2 linked regions of the Homo sapiens genome follow. The protein of the gene in region 1 interacts with the protein of each later gene in a biochemical or structural test. Each region holds a gene or a part of one and is shown on either strand. Other genes may lie near its edges.

Evidence for each region. The genes of interacting proteins can lie anywhere in the genome.
Region 2: the proteins of SPSB1 (region 1) and DDX4 interact in a test that uses a peptide from one of them, tested with the Homo sapiens proteins (one study listed by BioGRID).

What each region holds. Positions count from the first base shown.
Region 1 is NC_000001.11:9,295,350-9,303,801, forward strand, and holds part of SPSB1 (SPRY domain-containing SOCS box protein 1), read left to right. Parts: intron 1-8,452. UniProt on the Homo sapiens protein: Substrate recognition component of a SCF-like ECS (Elongin BC-CUL2/5-SOCS-box protein) E3 ubiquitin-protein ligase complex which mediates the ubiquitination and subsequent proteasomal degradation of target proteins.
Region 2 is NC_000005.10:55,810,335-55,817,657, reverse strand, and holds the end of DDX4 (probable ATP-dependent RNA helicase DDX4), read right to left. Parts: intron 3,986-7,323; coding exon 3,886-3,985; intron 2,758-3,885; coding exon 2,487-2,757; intron 2,346-2,486; coding exon 2,235-2,345; intron 1,196-2,234; coding exon 1,118-1,195; 3' UTR 501-1,117; downstream 1-500. UniProt on the Homo sapiens protein: ATP-dependent RNA helicase required during spermatogenesis. Required to repress transposable elements and preventing their mobilization, which is essential for the germline integrity.

The DNA of each region.
Region 1 (8,452 bases):
CATGTTGGCCCCAGTGGCTCAGACAGCCCCGAGCAGGGAGCAAGGCGGGTGCCATGCCGGCTTAAGAGAGACCTGGCCCTGGGAAGAATCAGTGGGTTTCAGGGCTCTTAGGAAGGGGTGGGCCTGCCTGGGGCCCTGGTGATGTCACTTTGGAGCTGGGTGAGGCCGTTTCTTGGGCTGCTGTAGTAAGGCTGGATCCACCCTTCAGTGGGTCCCTCTGGGCTGCTGCAGAATCTCACCCCCTTGGAATCATCACAGATGTTGAATTTCTTCACCAGAGCTGGGGAATGGGGTGGGGGCCTAGCCCGTGGAAGCCAGCGCTGCCCTCCCACCCCCATGGTGTGTGCCGTGCTCCCTTCCTGCACCTGCCCCTCCTCCTGGGTGGATGGAAACTTGCCTGCAGACGCATTTTCAAATTCAGCGAAACCTCTGATTCTTACGGTGTTCATGAGTTCGTCTGGGCATTTTGTATCAATTTTTCTCGAGAAATAGGTTGTAGCTGGTGTGCATGACTCAGTGTATCTTTTGGTTCTGAAAAATTTTATCAGACGACAGCACAAGGTCAGGTACAGGTGTGCCTCAGTCTGCCCAGGGGTGTGTTATCCTCTCCCCAGCCCTCAACACTAGATCAGTGAAATCCAGACTCTAAGGGACTTCGATTTTGGACTTTCAGTGAGTGCTCTCCCCTCCCCCAGTTATCTGATAACATCTCCCCCAGTCTAAAGTTCCACTGGCAGCCAGGTGCCCGGCTCTGTGCTACAGAGTGCTTTATGGACGTGACTTTGTTTGAATCCTAAGCATAATAATAGCGGGAAATGGTTTCATGGTTTCACGGTGCGTGCGAGTACTGGCTCTGATCTGAGTCCTTGACGCATTGACTCATGGGCTTCCTGAGGACCCTGAGAAGTGGGTTTTGCCTCCATGTCCATTCTGCTGAGGATTGCAGGTAACTTGGCTAAGGTCTCGCGGCAAGGGAATGGTGGAGCCAAAACTCGAATCCAGACTTGGCACCCAAGCCCTTCACCAGTAAGTTTGTCACCTCCACCACCTGAGCCTTTTCTTCAAGAAGCATGGGCTCATTTTTTTAGTGAAATTTTTTGTTATTATGGAAAATGTCAAACACACCAAAGTTAGAGGCAGAGTATAATGAGCGATCAGGTTTCCTCACCTCGCATGCACACACATACACATACTCACATATGCACATGCATACTTATGCTCACAGAAGATGTGCACATGTGTACACACACATACATATGCACACACATATATGCACACATACACACACACGCTGGATTATTTTGAAGCAAATACAAGATGTCAGGTCATCTGTAGCTTCTTCCTAAGAAGCATTTAAAGGAAGCATCACATCTCAAAGAGGTTGACTGTTACTCTATGCGGGGCAAGAGTCGGGAGATGTACGTCCTTTCTGACTTGGGCTTGAGGCTCCTTCCTTGCTTGGACAAAGGGAGGATGGCAAAACCCAACAGCACATTGGGGGATCTGTCCTGCTGCCAACCCCCTGAAACCTTTGGGAAGCTGCCTGTTTGCTTTGTGTTTTAAAAGTTCTGTTCATTGCCCAACGTTAAAAATAAATGAGTCCAGTGGTCATGAGACAGACCACATCAACAACAGGCTTAGGCTCTCGGGGCCTTTCTTGGAGATGGGGAAGAGAATCCGCCAAGGCACAGCCCAGCCTTGCCTGCCATTGAGGTCCAGACCTTGTGCAATGCAGGCATGGGATTTGTGGCAGGGCTGGGTGTCAGGAGATGTGACTGTGAGAATGGTTTGTCAACAAGCTCTGAATCTGACCTGAAGCTTAGCCTGACCCTCTTGAGTTTACTGCGTAGGCGATGGGTGGAGGAATCCAAGAACCTCTGCCACCCTTGGGCGTCTCTTGGAAAACTAGGGAGGCATTGGGTGATTTGAGCACAAGATGAAGAAAATATCAGGATGCAAACTCCACACTTGAGAAATGACTGCTGAGTAGGAATATAGGATTCCAGGGTTGGAAAAACCTACCTGTGACAAGGGCTTGACGGGTGCCCCAGTTGTGAACACACCTTGCCAGACAGTCAGAGTGTGGCCAATCTGGTCACACCCTTTCCAAGGTCAGAGTGAGGAGCTGCACTCCACACCAAGAGAACCACTTGAGTTTTCTAATTTATACAAGCAGACACCAAGGGAGCATGTGTGGGAGTGGATATTAGGATGTGGAACGAACATGAAGTTGGATCTGGCCGAATTTATGGATATGGGCCCACTAAGCGGAGATTCTGCACTTGATGTTGTAGCTCAGGGGGTTAAGAAGAGATCTGTTTGGTTGGCTGACTGGAACATGGATCAAAGGATGACCCACTGTGAGTAAGTTGGAGTTTCTGGGTCTCCTTTGGTTTAATGTAGAGTTAGGGATTCATAGGCTTAGGTTTCATGTAGAGTTAGGGATTCAAAGGCTTAGGGACATTGGAATGCTGGAGTGGATTTGTCTCTTAAAAGCTACTCACCCACACTGGGAAGGTTCAGAAGACAGATCTTTCACGCATACGTTGAGAAATAGATTTGTGAGGGGGCCCCAGCATCCCTGAAGAGCTCCGTGATCCAGCCCTTACAGTGGGAGCCGCAGTCACTCAAATGGAAAACTTAAATGCAACGGGAGTAATTGCATTTGGAGTGCAGCGGCCAAGTGGCAGTACTCAGCCATCCAAGGCAAGGTGAGTGTGGTTACCTAATGGACGGCAGAGGCAAAGCTGCCGTCAGAATAGTCTGACTTGTGTGGATCTATGGCATTGGATAGTTAATCATGGTGTTCCTAGAAGTGAAATAGACAGGAAACCCGTGAAATTCTTACTTGATCTTATAAGTTACTTGATTCTTTTAAGTTTTCTGTATAAGCAGAAACTTACAGGTCAAATGAAAAAAAGTCTAACTTGAATAATTAAAACAGAAAAATAATTAAAACAGAAAATCACAGCCCTCAATCAACTTCCCAGACTTAACCCAGTTTACACAACTAAGCCCCCATGAATGAATGAATGAGTGAATGAATGAATGAGTGAACGAATGAATGAATAAGTGAACGAATGAATGAATAAGTGAATGAATAAGTGAATGAATGAATGAATGAATTGGAAGCTGGATCCCTTTGAAGAAGGACCTCAGTACACTAGAGAAAGTTTATGCTATTAATTTTTCTCCTAGCCTTCCCCAAAGGGACCTGTGACCTTTTACCAGAGTGAATATGTATTGAGGAAAGGGAAATAATTAGATTGTTCGGGGATAACTGGTTACTGAACTGATACTGATTCCAGGAAACCAAAAATATCACTCACTGTGGCCCACTAGTCAGAGAAGGGGCTTATGGAGGTCAGGTGATCAATGGAGTTTTAGCTTAGGTTTGACTCCTGGTGGCTCCCGTGGATCCCTGAACCCATCCTGGGGTTATTTCCTGGTTCCAGATTCAAAGTTGACATACTTAGCACCTGGCAGAATCCACACACTGGTTCCCTGCCTTGTGCGGTGAGGGCTGTTATGGTGGGAAAGGCCAAGTGGAAACCATTAGCGTTGCCTCTGCCTGGGAAAATAGTACATCAAAAGCAACATTGCATCCCTGGGGTGGGGCTGCCGAGATTAGCACCACCATCAAGGACTTGGAGGAGGCGGGGGTGGTGACCCCCACCACATCCCCATTCAACTCTCCGATTTGGCCTGTGCAGAAGACAGATGGACTTTAGAAACTGATAGTGGATTATTGTAAACTTAACCAAGTGGTGACTGCAAAATTCACACATCTCTGGTCCCTGCTACTGCATGCAGCTGTTGATCTGACGAATGCCCTTCTCTTTATACCTGTCCATAAGGCCCAGCAGAAGCAGTTTGCATCCAGCTGGTAAGGCCGGCAATGCCCCTTGGCGGTCTGGGCTGATGGGTATATCAGCTCTCCAGCCCTATGTCACAGTTTAGTTCACAGTCATCTTGATCACCTTTCCCTTCCACAGATATCATACTGGGGCTGGGCACGGTGGCTCACTCCTGTAATCCTAGCACTTCAGGAGGCCGAGGCAGGAGGATCGCTTGAACTTAGGAGTTTGAGACCAGCCTGGGCAACACAGTGAGACGTCATCTCTCTCTCTCTCTCTCTCTTTTTTTGAGATGGATTTTTTGCTCTTGTTGCCTAGGCTGGAGTGCAATGGTGCAATCTCGGCTCACTGCAACCTCCGCCTCCCGGGTTCAAGCAATTCTCCTGCTTCAGCCTCCTGAGTAGCTGGGATTACAGGCATGCGCCACCACACCCAGCTAATTTTTTGTATTTAGTAGAGACAGGGTTTCACTATGTTGGTCAGGCTGGTCTTGAACTCCTGACACCAAGTGATTCACCCGCCTTGGCCTCCCAAAGTTCTGGGATTACAGGCATGAGCCACTGCGCCCGGGCCGACATCATCTCTATAAATTTTTTTTTTTTTTAAATTAGCCAGGCATGATGGTGTGTGCCTGTGGTCCCAGCTACTTGGGTGGCTGAGGTGGGAGGATCGCTTGAGCCTAGGAGGTCAAGACTTGCAGTGAGCAGTGATTGTGTTACTTTACTCCAACCTGGGCAACAGAGTAAGACCCTGTCTCAAAAAAAAAAAAAAAAAAAGGGTCTCATGCTGGTCCATTACATTGATGTCATCATGCTTCATTGGACCTAGTGAGCAAGAAGTCGCAACCACTGTAGCCTTATTGGTAGGACATTTACATGTCAAGCGATGGGAAATAAATTCTACTGAAATTCGGGGACCTTCTCCCTTAGTGAAATTTCTCGGGGTCCAGTAGTGTCAGGCCTGTGAAGGTATCCCCTCTAAGGTGAAGAATAAGTTGTTACAGCTTTCCTCCTGCAACCAAGAAAGAGGCACAATGCCTCGTGGGCCTGTTTGGACTTTGGAGGCAACACATTCCTCATTTGGGTGTGTTACTCCAGCCCATTTGCTGAGTCACCCTAACGCTTCTAGTTTTGAGTGGGGCCCGTAGCAGAAGACTGCAACAGGTCCAGGTTGCTGTGCAACCTGCTTTGCCACTTGGGCCACCAGCAGATCCAGTGGTGGTTGAGGTCAGCGGCAGACAGGGAGGCTGCTTAAAGCCTTTGGCAGGCCCCTGTAGATGAATCGCAGTACAGGCCTTGGGATTTTGGAGCAAGGCCCTGCCATCATCCACAAATAACTTCATTCCTTTTGAGAGACAGCTCTTGGCCTAATACTGGACCCTAGTAGAGACTTAATGTTTGACCATCAGCCACGAAGTTGCCATGTGACCTGAGCTGCCCATCATGAAGTGGGTGTTATCTATGATCTGACCGACCAAACCAGACATTGGGCATGTGTGGCAGAACGCTGCCATCGAGAGGAAGTGGTATATATGGGATCAGGTCTGAGCAGGTCCTGAAGGCACAAGTAAGTGACATGAGGAAGTGGTCCAAAGGCCCATGGTTCTTACTTTGCCCACTGCCTTCTCTCTCCAGCCTGTATCTATGGTCTCCTGGGGAGTTCCCTCTGATCGATTGACAGTGGAAGAGAAGACTTAGTCAGCCTGGTTTGCAGATGGCTACAGATGGCTCTGCACTATATGAAGGCACAACCCGAAAGTGGACAGCTGCAGCACTATAGCCCCTTGCTGGGACACCTCTGAAGGATGGGGGTGAAGGGAAATCCTCCCTGGCAGAGCTTCGGGCAGTGCACCTGGTTGTGCACCTTGCTTCGAAGGAGAGATGGCCAGATGAGTGATTATATACTGATCCATGGGCTGTGCCTGATGATTTGGCTGGATGGTCAGGGATTTGGGGACTTGGAAAGAGTATGATTGGAAGATTGGTGACAAAGAAAGCTGGGGGCCTGGCATAGTGGCTCACACCTGTAATCCCAGCACTTTGGGAGGCCAAGGTGGGAGGATTGCTTGAGCCCAAGGAGTTCGAGACCAGCCTGAGCAACATAGTGAGACTCCCCGCCCCCGCCATCTCTACAAAAATAAAAAATTAGCTGGGCGTGGTAGCTCATGCCTGCAGTCCCAGCTACTTGGGAGGCTGAGGTGGGAGGATCACTTGAGCCTAGGAGGTTGAGGCTGCAGTGAGCTGTGATTGCTCCAGCCTGGGCAACAGAATGAGACCCTGTATCAAAAAACCCAACCAAACAAAAAAGCAATTGGGGGAAGATGTATGTGGATAGACCTGAGTGCGCACAGGACACGGATAGACCTCCCGAGTGCGCACAGGACATGAGGTATGTGGGTAGGATGACCTAGGTGGATTCTCGTCAGCCTCTTTCCCTGGCCACCCCTGTCATCGCCTGGTGGGCTCAGGAACAAAGTGGTCATGGTGGCAGAGATGGAGGTGATGCATGGGCTCAGCAGCATGGACTGCCACTCACCAAAGCCGACCTGGCTATGGCTACCACTGGCTGCTAGTCTGCCAGAAGCGGAGACTAACACTGAGCTCCAGTATGGCCCCATTCCCCGGGATGATCACTGCACCTGGTGGAAGGCACATTGGACCACTTCTGTTTTGGAAGGGGCAGCGTTTTGTCCTTACTGGAGCAGGCACTTATTCTGGATACAGATTCGTCTTCCCTGCACACAGTGCTTCTGCCAAAGTCACCATCCATTGATTGACAGAACACCTTTCCCACTGTCACGCTGTCCGTGTAGCACTGCTTCCAGGGAGCTCACTTCACAACCAAGGAAGTGTGGCACTGGGATCATGTGCAGGGAATTGGCCGGTGAGCACGAGCCCACTGGTTTCGCCTATCATGCTAAGTGGAACTACGGTCTTGTTATTGCCTTTATTTGGAAATTAAGTATGGTTTAAGAAGATGCCAGTGGGTGCCTATGGGTGCCAGTTGGTAAGGGGTGGACCTGTGATGATTGATTTTGGATGTCAACTTGACTAGATTAAGGAATACCCAGGTAGATGGTAAAGCATTGATTATTCTCTATGCTTCAGTACACACTGAGCCTGTCCCTTTTCTGCTGACAGGGAAGCCCAGTGGTTTGACATTGTGTAGAATGATCGGGCTGCCCCAGATGTGTCTGTGAGGGTGTTTTTGGAGGACACTGGCAATTGAGTCACTCAACTGGGTGGGGAGGATCTGCCCTCCATGTGGGCAGGCACCATCCAGTCAGCCGGGGGCCTGGAAGAAGGGTGAATCCTGGCTCTCTGTCCCGGAGCTGGGATGCTCTTCTCCTGCGCTTGGATGTCAGAACTCCAGGTTCTCTGGCCTTTGGACTCTGGGACTCGTACGAGTGGTCTCCGGAGTCTTTGACCTGGGACTGGGAATGACCACGTTCCCCACCATCCTGAAGCAGCTGACTTGAAAGAAGGGCAGTAGAGTCTTTTGAAGTTGCAATTACAATGCCAGCTAGGTGACAATACTTTGTAGGGCTGGGTCAGGGGTCTTCAAAAGGCTCTATGTACTCTGTATCAGCATCCAATATATGGTGCTGGTTTCTCCCGTAGCCAGGATTCACGGGTCCAGGAATCAAGGGGAGGAAATGGGAGTGGCACTGCGCATCATATCCCCTAGGGACCCGCTAGCGAAATTGTTGCTTCCTGTTCCTGTGACTTTATGCTCTGCTGGCCTGGAGGTCTTGGTTCCAGAGAGAGGAATGCTCCTACCAGGAGACACAACAGTGATTCCATTGAACGGGGGGTAAGGCTGCCACCTGGCTTCTTTGGGCTCCCTGTGCCTCTGGGTCAGCAGGCTGAGAGGGGAGTGATGGTGTTGGCTGTGGAGATTGATCTGGACTACCAAGGGGAAATTGATCTGGACTGCTCCACAATGAGGCAAGGAAGAGTGTGTCTGGAGTACAGGATACTCCTTAGGGCATCTGTTAGTATTACCATGCCCTGTGATTAAGTCAATGGGAAATTACAAGGATACAATCCAGGCAGGACTGTGAATGACTCAGACCCTTCAGGAATGAATGTTTGGGTCACTCTGCCACTTAAAGAACCACAGCCAGCTGAGGTGCTTGTTGCAGACGAAAGGAACACAGAACAGGACAGAGGGAGGTAGTTATAATAAATACCAGCTCCAACCACGTGACCAGTTACAGAAACAAGGGCCAGAATTGCTGGGAGTATTTCCTCCCTATTTTGTTCAGAATACGGTTGTATGCATTTACATGTATATTAGGCAAATATCTGTTTTCTTTCCTCTCTTACTCCTTATTCTTAGAACATGTGTTGAGTCTATAGCAGTATTTAAGTATTAATTTTACATCATAGTATTTAAGTTATTGAGTATCAGAGGAGAGAGGAGTGAATAGCACTCAAGGACTGTACCTCCTCTCTGGAGAAGGGATTAATGTGTCTTTGCTATGCAGGATAGTAGTGTCACGATAGGTGGAACTATGACCTTGATACTGTCCTTGGAGATTAAGTATGGTTTAAGGAGATGCCAGTGGGTGCCTCTGGGTGCCAGTTGATAAG
Region 2 (7,323 bases), on another chromosome or scaffold:
GTGAAACCCGTCTCTACTAAAAATTAGCTGGGCATTGTGGCGCGTGTCTGTAATCCCAGCTACTCGGGAGAGGCTGAGGCAGGAGAACTGCTTGAACCCGGGAGGCAGAGGTTGCAGTGAGCCAAGATCACGCCATTACACTCCAGCCTTAGCAACAAGAGCAAGACTCCGTCTCAAAAAAAAAAAGAACTTCATTATTCTAGGCATAGTAAGTTCAAGATATATAATGGAAAATGAAGAAAGACAGGGTTCTTTCATCAATCTTAAAATATGAATCAAAAACTTATGGAAAGAGTAAGCAGCATTGTTTTTTGTTGATAAACGGGTTTGAGTTCTAAGATTGATTTTCATTGCCACATCTGTGCAGTAATGTTTATACATTAATATTTAATTTATGTAAGACTTTGTTCACTGCACTGGTTACGCAAGACACAAAAAAACAGTTTCAAAAATATAGGAGTTTGGGCTAGGATATGCAACAAAGAAAAATTTAAAGTGCTGATGGAAAACTTAAGGGAAAAGTGTTTCATCCTTTATTTCAAGGAAAGATTGTATATTATAAAAATAAACATTGTTATGCCATTGAGTACAGAGCTCCCATCACAAACATTTAACCATTTTCATCATACATCTGATGATCTAAAAATCAAAATCACTTTGAAAGGCTTAAGTATTCTACTTTCTCTTAAAGATTATCACATTATAGTGACACACTACTGTTTTAAAGACTCAAGTAAAAATGAGACCCAGTAATTTTTAACCAAAAGTGTATCATATCCTATTTGCTTGTTTTATAAGATCAATAAACACTATAGTAAGACTTGGCATTTAAACATTAAACATGTCTAAGCCCCCTAAAGAATATACCAGAAATAAGAAAGACATTTAGAATGCTTTAATATTCCCAGTTAACACCATTTGTATCAGTAACTGCAATGTTGTAAGTTTTAGCATCTCACATAACTAGTCAGTAAGGATTTTTTTTTTAAGTGTAGGAGTGAGAATACAAGGACAGGAGCTATGAGAATGTTAAGTTTTATACTTCTGTTAAAAACTCAAAAATCAAAACTATTTTCTTCTCTGCATCAAAACCACAGACTTGAAGGATGTTTTGGCTTTAATCCCATGACTCATCATCTACTGGATTGGGAGCTTGTGAAGAAGAAAACCCAGCTGTGTTCAAAGTGCTCTTGCCCTGGTAATTATTTAAAAAAAAAAAAAAAGAAACAAACAAACATTTAATTTTATGACAGCTTTAAAGTTACATCACTCAGACTGAGAGCAAGGACTCAAAGTATCTACCATGTCTTCCCCAAATAATCAAAGAACTTTATTCTCACTAAATCTGATTCACCTGAAAAAAGGCTCCTGTCAAATGAGGAAATCTAAATTGCACAAAATGTTTCAAGAAAAATATTTTTTAAGTCAATAGTTTTGACAAGTGGGGAAAACTTAATGCACTACACTCAATGAATCAGCATAAATATTTAATTAACATGCTCATTGTTTCTGAATAAAGGCGGTGTTCAGCCTATAAAAACCTGACATACCAGAAAAGACTTGTAGCCTCGTGGCTGGGCGCAGTGGCTCACGCCTGTAATCTCAGCACTTTGGGAGGTTGAAGCAGGTGGATCACTTGAGGCCAGGAGTTTGAGACCAGCCTGGCCAACATGGTGAAACCCTGTCTCTATTAAAAATACAAAAAAAAAAAAAAAAAAAACCAGCTAAGATGGTGGCACATGCCTGTAATCCCAGATACACTGGAGGCTGAGGCATGAGAATTGTTTGAACCTGGGAGGCGGAGGTTGCAGTGAGCCAAGATCATGCCACTGCACTCCAGCCTGGACAACAGAGCCAGACACTATCTCAAAAAAAAAAAAAAAGAAAAGAAAAAGAAAAGACTTGTAACCCCAACAGGTCCTGTATTTTATATTAATTAATGTTGTCAGAATTCAAAAATTAAATAATTCCATCAGAAGTTTAAAAGATTCCAAATTAAAATTTAAAATCTGGGAAAGGAGACTGTTTAGGCATAAATCTCAAAGTTAATTCCTGACCTTTAAAACCAAAAATATGTATATACATAAAATGTTAATGAAATAATAAAGTAGCTACCTTCCAGGCACGAAAACAATGGCTTGATTATTAAATATTATAGTTACTTCACAATATTAAGCACAACATTTACAAAGAGTAACTAGAAGACAAGTTCTCAAGTTTTCCTTTCTACTAACCTTTCTGGTATCAACTGATGCAAACACGTTTCCTCTTGTACTACCACTGAAGCCAGGAATGTATGTACTAAAGGCAATTTCTTCCAACCATGCAGGAACATCCTGTTGAGCCTTTAAAAAAAATTGACTTCATATGCAACATAAAGTATTAAATATTGGAAAAGTTTACTTGTTATATACACATGCATAAAATGTCTACTTTCAACAACAAAGTAAGAAAACTATCCATTCCATCATAAAAGTTTAACTTACATCTGTCAATACTTTTACTAGAGGCTGTGCTAAATGGTTATCCGATTCAAGATCAAAAAAGGAAATTGCTCTGCCAGTATTCCCACAACGACCAGTACGCCCAATTCGATGAACATATTCATCAATGGTAGAAGGAAGATCAAAATTGATAACATGTTGCACATTTTCAATATCCAGCCCTCTGGCAGCTACTGAAGTAGCAACAAGAACTGGGCACTTTCCAAAGCGAAAATCTCCAAGAGCTTGCTCCCGCTCTCTCTGTTCCCGATCACTTGAAAGAAAAGAAAGCATGTTATTAGAACCACTCTTAAAATCATTAAAGTGAATCATTAAAGTTCAACATACAAATTTCTTTTTAATAATAGTATGAATAGCAGCATTTGGCTGGGCGCAGTGGCTCACACCTGTAACCCCAGCACTTTGGGAGGCTGAAGCAGGTGGATCACAAGGTGAGGAGATCGAGACCAGTCTGGCCAACATGATGAAACACCATCTCTATTAAAGATACAAAAAATTAGCTGGGCATGGTGGCATGCACCTGTAATTCCAGCTACTAGGGAGGCTGAAGTAGGAGAATCACTTGAACCGGGGAAGCAGAGGTGAGCTGAGATCGTGCCATTGCACTCCAGCCTGGATGACTGGGCAAGACTTTCTCAAAAAAAAAAAAGAATAGCAGCATTTAACATTAATGTTCACTTCTTACATACCAGGTACTATACTAATTCCTTCCAAGCTACCATTTTATTTAATCCTCAATATAATACTTTGAGTTGCAAAAATTATCCCCATTTGCAAATGAGGTAAAGTAACAGCTAATATGTAGAGACAGACTACAATCTCAAGTCTGACAAAAATCAAATCCTATTATAATCTCTATGCTTTATAGTCTTGACATAAAATATACAACTACTTGATTAGAATGCTTGCTTAAAAACATATTTTTAAAGTATAATTTCACAACACTATATACTACGTGATATTTTAGGATCTACTAATGAAGTGCCCATAAAACGGTATTAATATGACATTTTAAAGCACTCCAATTTTAAAAAGCTCTAAGAAAGATTAGATTTAGCAAAGGAAAATTTGATAAGGGGCCAGAGATCCTTAAGTGAGATCTCTTGAGAAATTTCCACTCCTTATTTTGAGAGTAAGGCAGACCTTTATCTTACCCACCACAACCACTTAGTTCTAAAAACTAAGAATGAGGATGAAAAATAATAGTTTAGTACTCCTGGGTATTATCCTTTTCCTCATATAAAGGAGAATAACAGTTTAGATCTGAGAGAATTCTGAATCCCAATCCTAGGATTATATCATATTAGTTATATAAACTGATGTTTCTTAAATACCAAATAGAAGTCATTCCCCTAATAGGTAATTATATTCATCTACTCACCCATGAATACTTGTAGTTGATATTTTTTCTTGACAAAGAAAAGTTGCAATAAAATCTGCTTTTTTCTTAGTTTCAACAAAGACCATAGTTCTTTCATCCCCTACAAGACAATGAAATTATTAATATTCAAACTTCAAAATCAGGAAATGAAAAATAAAGCAGGGATAGGAGGCAGTGCTTGAATATGAAACTTTGTCCACCACTGTATTTACTACCAGCACCACAGCCAAGCCTGGTACATAAGAGGGACTCTAATTCCAGAATGGATGTCAAAGACACAGGACTGTTTTCCTAGTTGAGGGATTTAAAAAATTAGCTTCTCTTTCCTCCTCCCAGGCCAACACAAGAAGTAGAACCTTAGGGAAAGGTAAATCATATCTGCCTGCCAACTCTTAGTAATATAAAATTGTCTCAGTCCTTTCCTCCCCTCCATTTCCCTCGCTCTATAAATGTTTTTTGCTGTCTACCTCTCAAGATAATCCAATCTTTCATTCTCCCATGATTGCCTGAGGTGTTTACAATAGTGGCATCTGACCTGGGGCTGCTTAACTCTATATAATTAGTGTTCCAAACATTATCTCTAATTCAAATCCCTTCATTCCCAAAATATCTTACATATTAAAAAATTAAATGACAACCTTATCCCAGGGTCTTAACTTGTTAAGGAATATTTACTCCTTAAAATATTTAACCGGTAGAAATTCAAGCATGGGCCGGAGATTTTCCCACACAGGGAATTTCCCTATAAAATGTTGGAGAAGAAAGATAATTTATAGCTTTAAAGCATATAAAAATGTATTACTGTTCATAATCTCTCTCCCCATTTCTCTGTAATCTCACTTCATTCATTTATTCAGCAAACATTTAGTGCCTACTAGATGCCTGTCATGTTTCTGTTGGAAATGCGGAAATAAAAGCCCCTGCTTTCACTATGGGGAGGCAAATAAATATTACGCATTTAGTACTAAAAAGGAAAAAATCAGCAAGATAAAGGGTCCAGAGATGATTACTTTAGATACTTTAAGACAGGCTTATTAGACAGGCCTACTTTAGATACCCCAATTAGATGGTATCTTAGTAAAGATATAAAGATAGTGAACTGTGCAGGTATCTAGGAAAAGAGCTTAAGGAAGAGTGAAAGACAAGTCTAAGCCTCTGAGAAATGCATTTTTTTTTTTTTGAGACGCAGTCTCGCTCTGTTGCCCAGGCTGGAGTGCAGTGGCGCAATCTCGGCTTGCTGGAGTGCAGTGGCACAATCTCGGCTCACTGCAACCTCCGCCTCCCGGGTTCACGCCATTCTCCTGCCTCAGCCTCCTGAGTAGCTGGGACTACAGGCACCTGCCACCACACCCAGCTAATTTTTTTTTGTATTTTTAGTAGAGACGGGGTTTCACCGTGTTAGCCAGGATGGTCTCAATCTCCTAACCTCGTGATCCGCCCGCCTCGGCCTCCCAAAGTGCTGGGATTACAGGCGTGAACCACCGCGCCCGGCCCCTACGGAAGTATTAACACATTAAATTACAAAGTCTCTTAAAGGAATTCTATTCAAATTTGTTTATAAAGATGAATAAAAGAGAAATGTTATCAAGGTAAATATTCCTAAAATCTCAGAAAGTAAAGAAATTGAACTTGCACTTTTGAAAAATATACTTTAAACTATATTAAACTTTTGAAAAAACGTATTACAAGAATCAGAATCATTTTAAGAATCCAAGTTTACATAATTAAGTGAAATCTTTGGTAAATGAGACTAATACCTTTAGTTTAAAAAAAACCAAAACATCTTCTCCCTATTATCAGTGTAAAGCTTAATACACTTACTCTACTTGGGTTTGTTTTTCCTAATGTATAGAGGTTTACTAGCCAAATAAGCTAGTATTATTCCTTCATGATGTTTAAGAGTATGAAAACGGAAATCTGTGTTCAACTAAATTTAGTCATTTATTCAACAGTATTTATGTTTTGAAAAACATCATCTTGAAGATAATTTCCAAAATCTTCAGGTAACTGAAAACAGTAGACAATGCTTGTGTATGACATCTCCCAGTTTCCCATCTCCCTGCTCCCAATTTCCTTTATGAAATAGAAGTTACTATGATTAAAAGATATAATTAACATAAGTGGTTGCAACTACACTAGGAATAACAGTGACAGAAATAAAAACTGTAATTGCTTTTGCTTCAAGGAAAAAAAGTAGTTTAGTGGCTTTCAAACATTTTGGTCAGTGTTACCTTTAAACTCATAAAACACTGACAATCCTGGAGTTTTTCTTGTGTGTTTTGATATTTACCATATTAAAAATTAACACCAAGATAATCTTTATTTGAACAATATTTGCATATTAAAATAAATAATTCTTAGTATAATCATGAAAATTATTTTTACCTTGCAGACCCAATTAGGGGATCTTAGAGAACCTGGGGGAGACACATTTTGTCCTAAAATGTCAGTTTGTTCCAGAAAACTGAAAAAGCACAATGAAAGATAAAACTTGGAAACTGAATTTTATCTGCTTTGATTTAAAACACTTGGGTTAAAATAAGCTATAAAAGGTGTTAATATTCTAGCAAAGGTCACTCAGTTTGTATGGAATTACTTTCTTAATTTACTGTTTAATGCTTTCGCTTATGAGAGTTTTTTTTCCTCAGAGCCATTACACTGGATAAAAAGTTATTCTTTACCTTCCTTGTAATCAGCCTAGACAGCAGAGATTCTGTTGACTTTATTAGGTCTGTTTAAAAAAAAAAAAAGACTAAAGAAGGGAAAAAAAGAAGAAAAAAAGACTAAAGAGAAAAGGTTCCCTATTTATGAAAGAGCTGTGGTTATTTACAACCATGTCACTTTCTATGTTTACTTCTAAATGTTTTGTCACTTCAATTAAATTGATAACCAAATAGTTTTTCTGATACCCACGAATCCTACACTAATCAAATATTCAACTCTCCTCTGACAACTCCTTTTGTCTTTTTAAGATCAAATTAAAAATTTAGAAGAAGAAATTCACCCAGAAAACTTTTGAGATTTCTCAGAGAGAGCCCCAGGAAAAGCACAAAGGTTTATTATTTCATTATAAAGGAAGGGATTCTAGAAATTATTTTTTTTAGATGTATTACTATTTAAGAGTTGTATGGTAAGAGTTGTCAAACCAGAAAAGACTACACTTTTCCAAGATTAAAGAGAATAGATAAAATGTTAATACACGTTGAGCATTCCTAATTTGAAAATCCAAAATCCCAAACTCTTTGAGTACTGACATGATGCTCAAAGGAAATGCTCACTGGAGCATTTCAGAGTTTTGGATTAGGGATGATCAAGTGATAAACGTACTGCAAATATTCCAAAAGTTAATTAAAAAAAATCCGAAACATGGCTAGGCATGGTGGCTCATACCTGTAATTCCAGCACTTTGGGAGGCCAAGGCGGGCGGATCACCTGAGG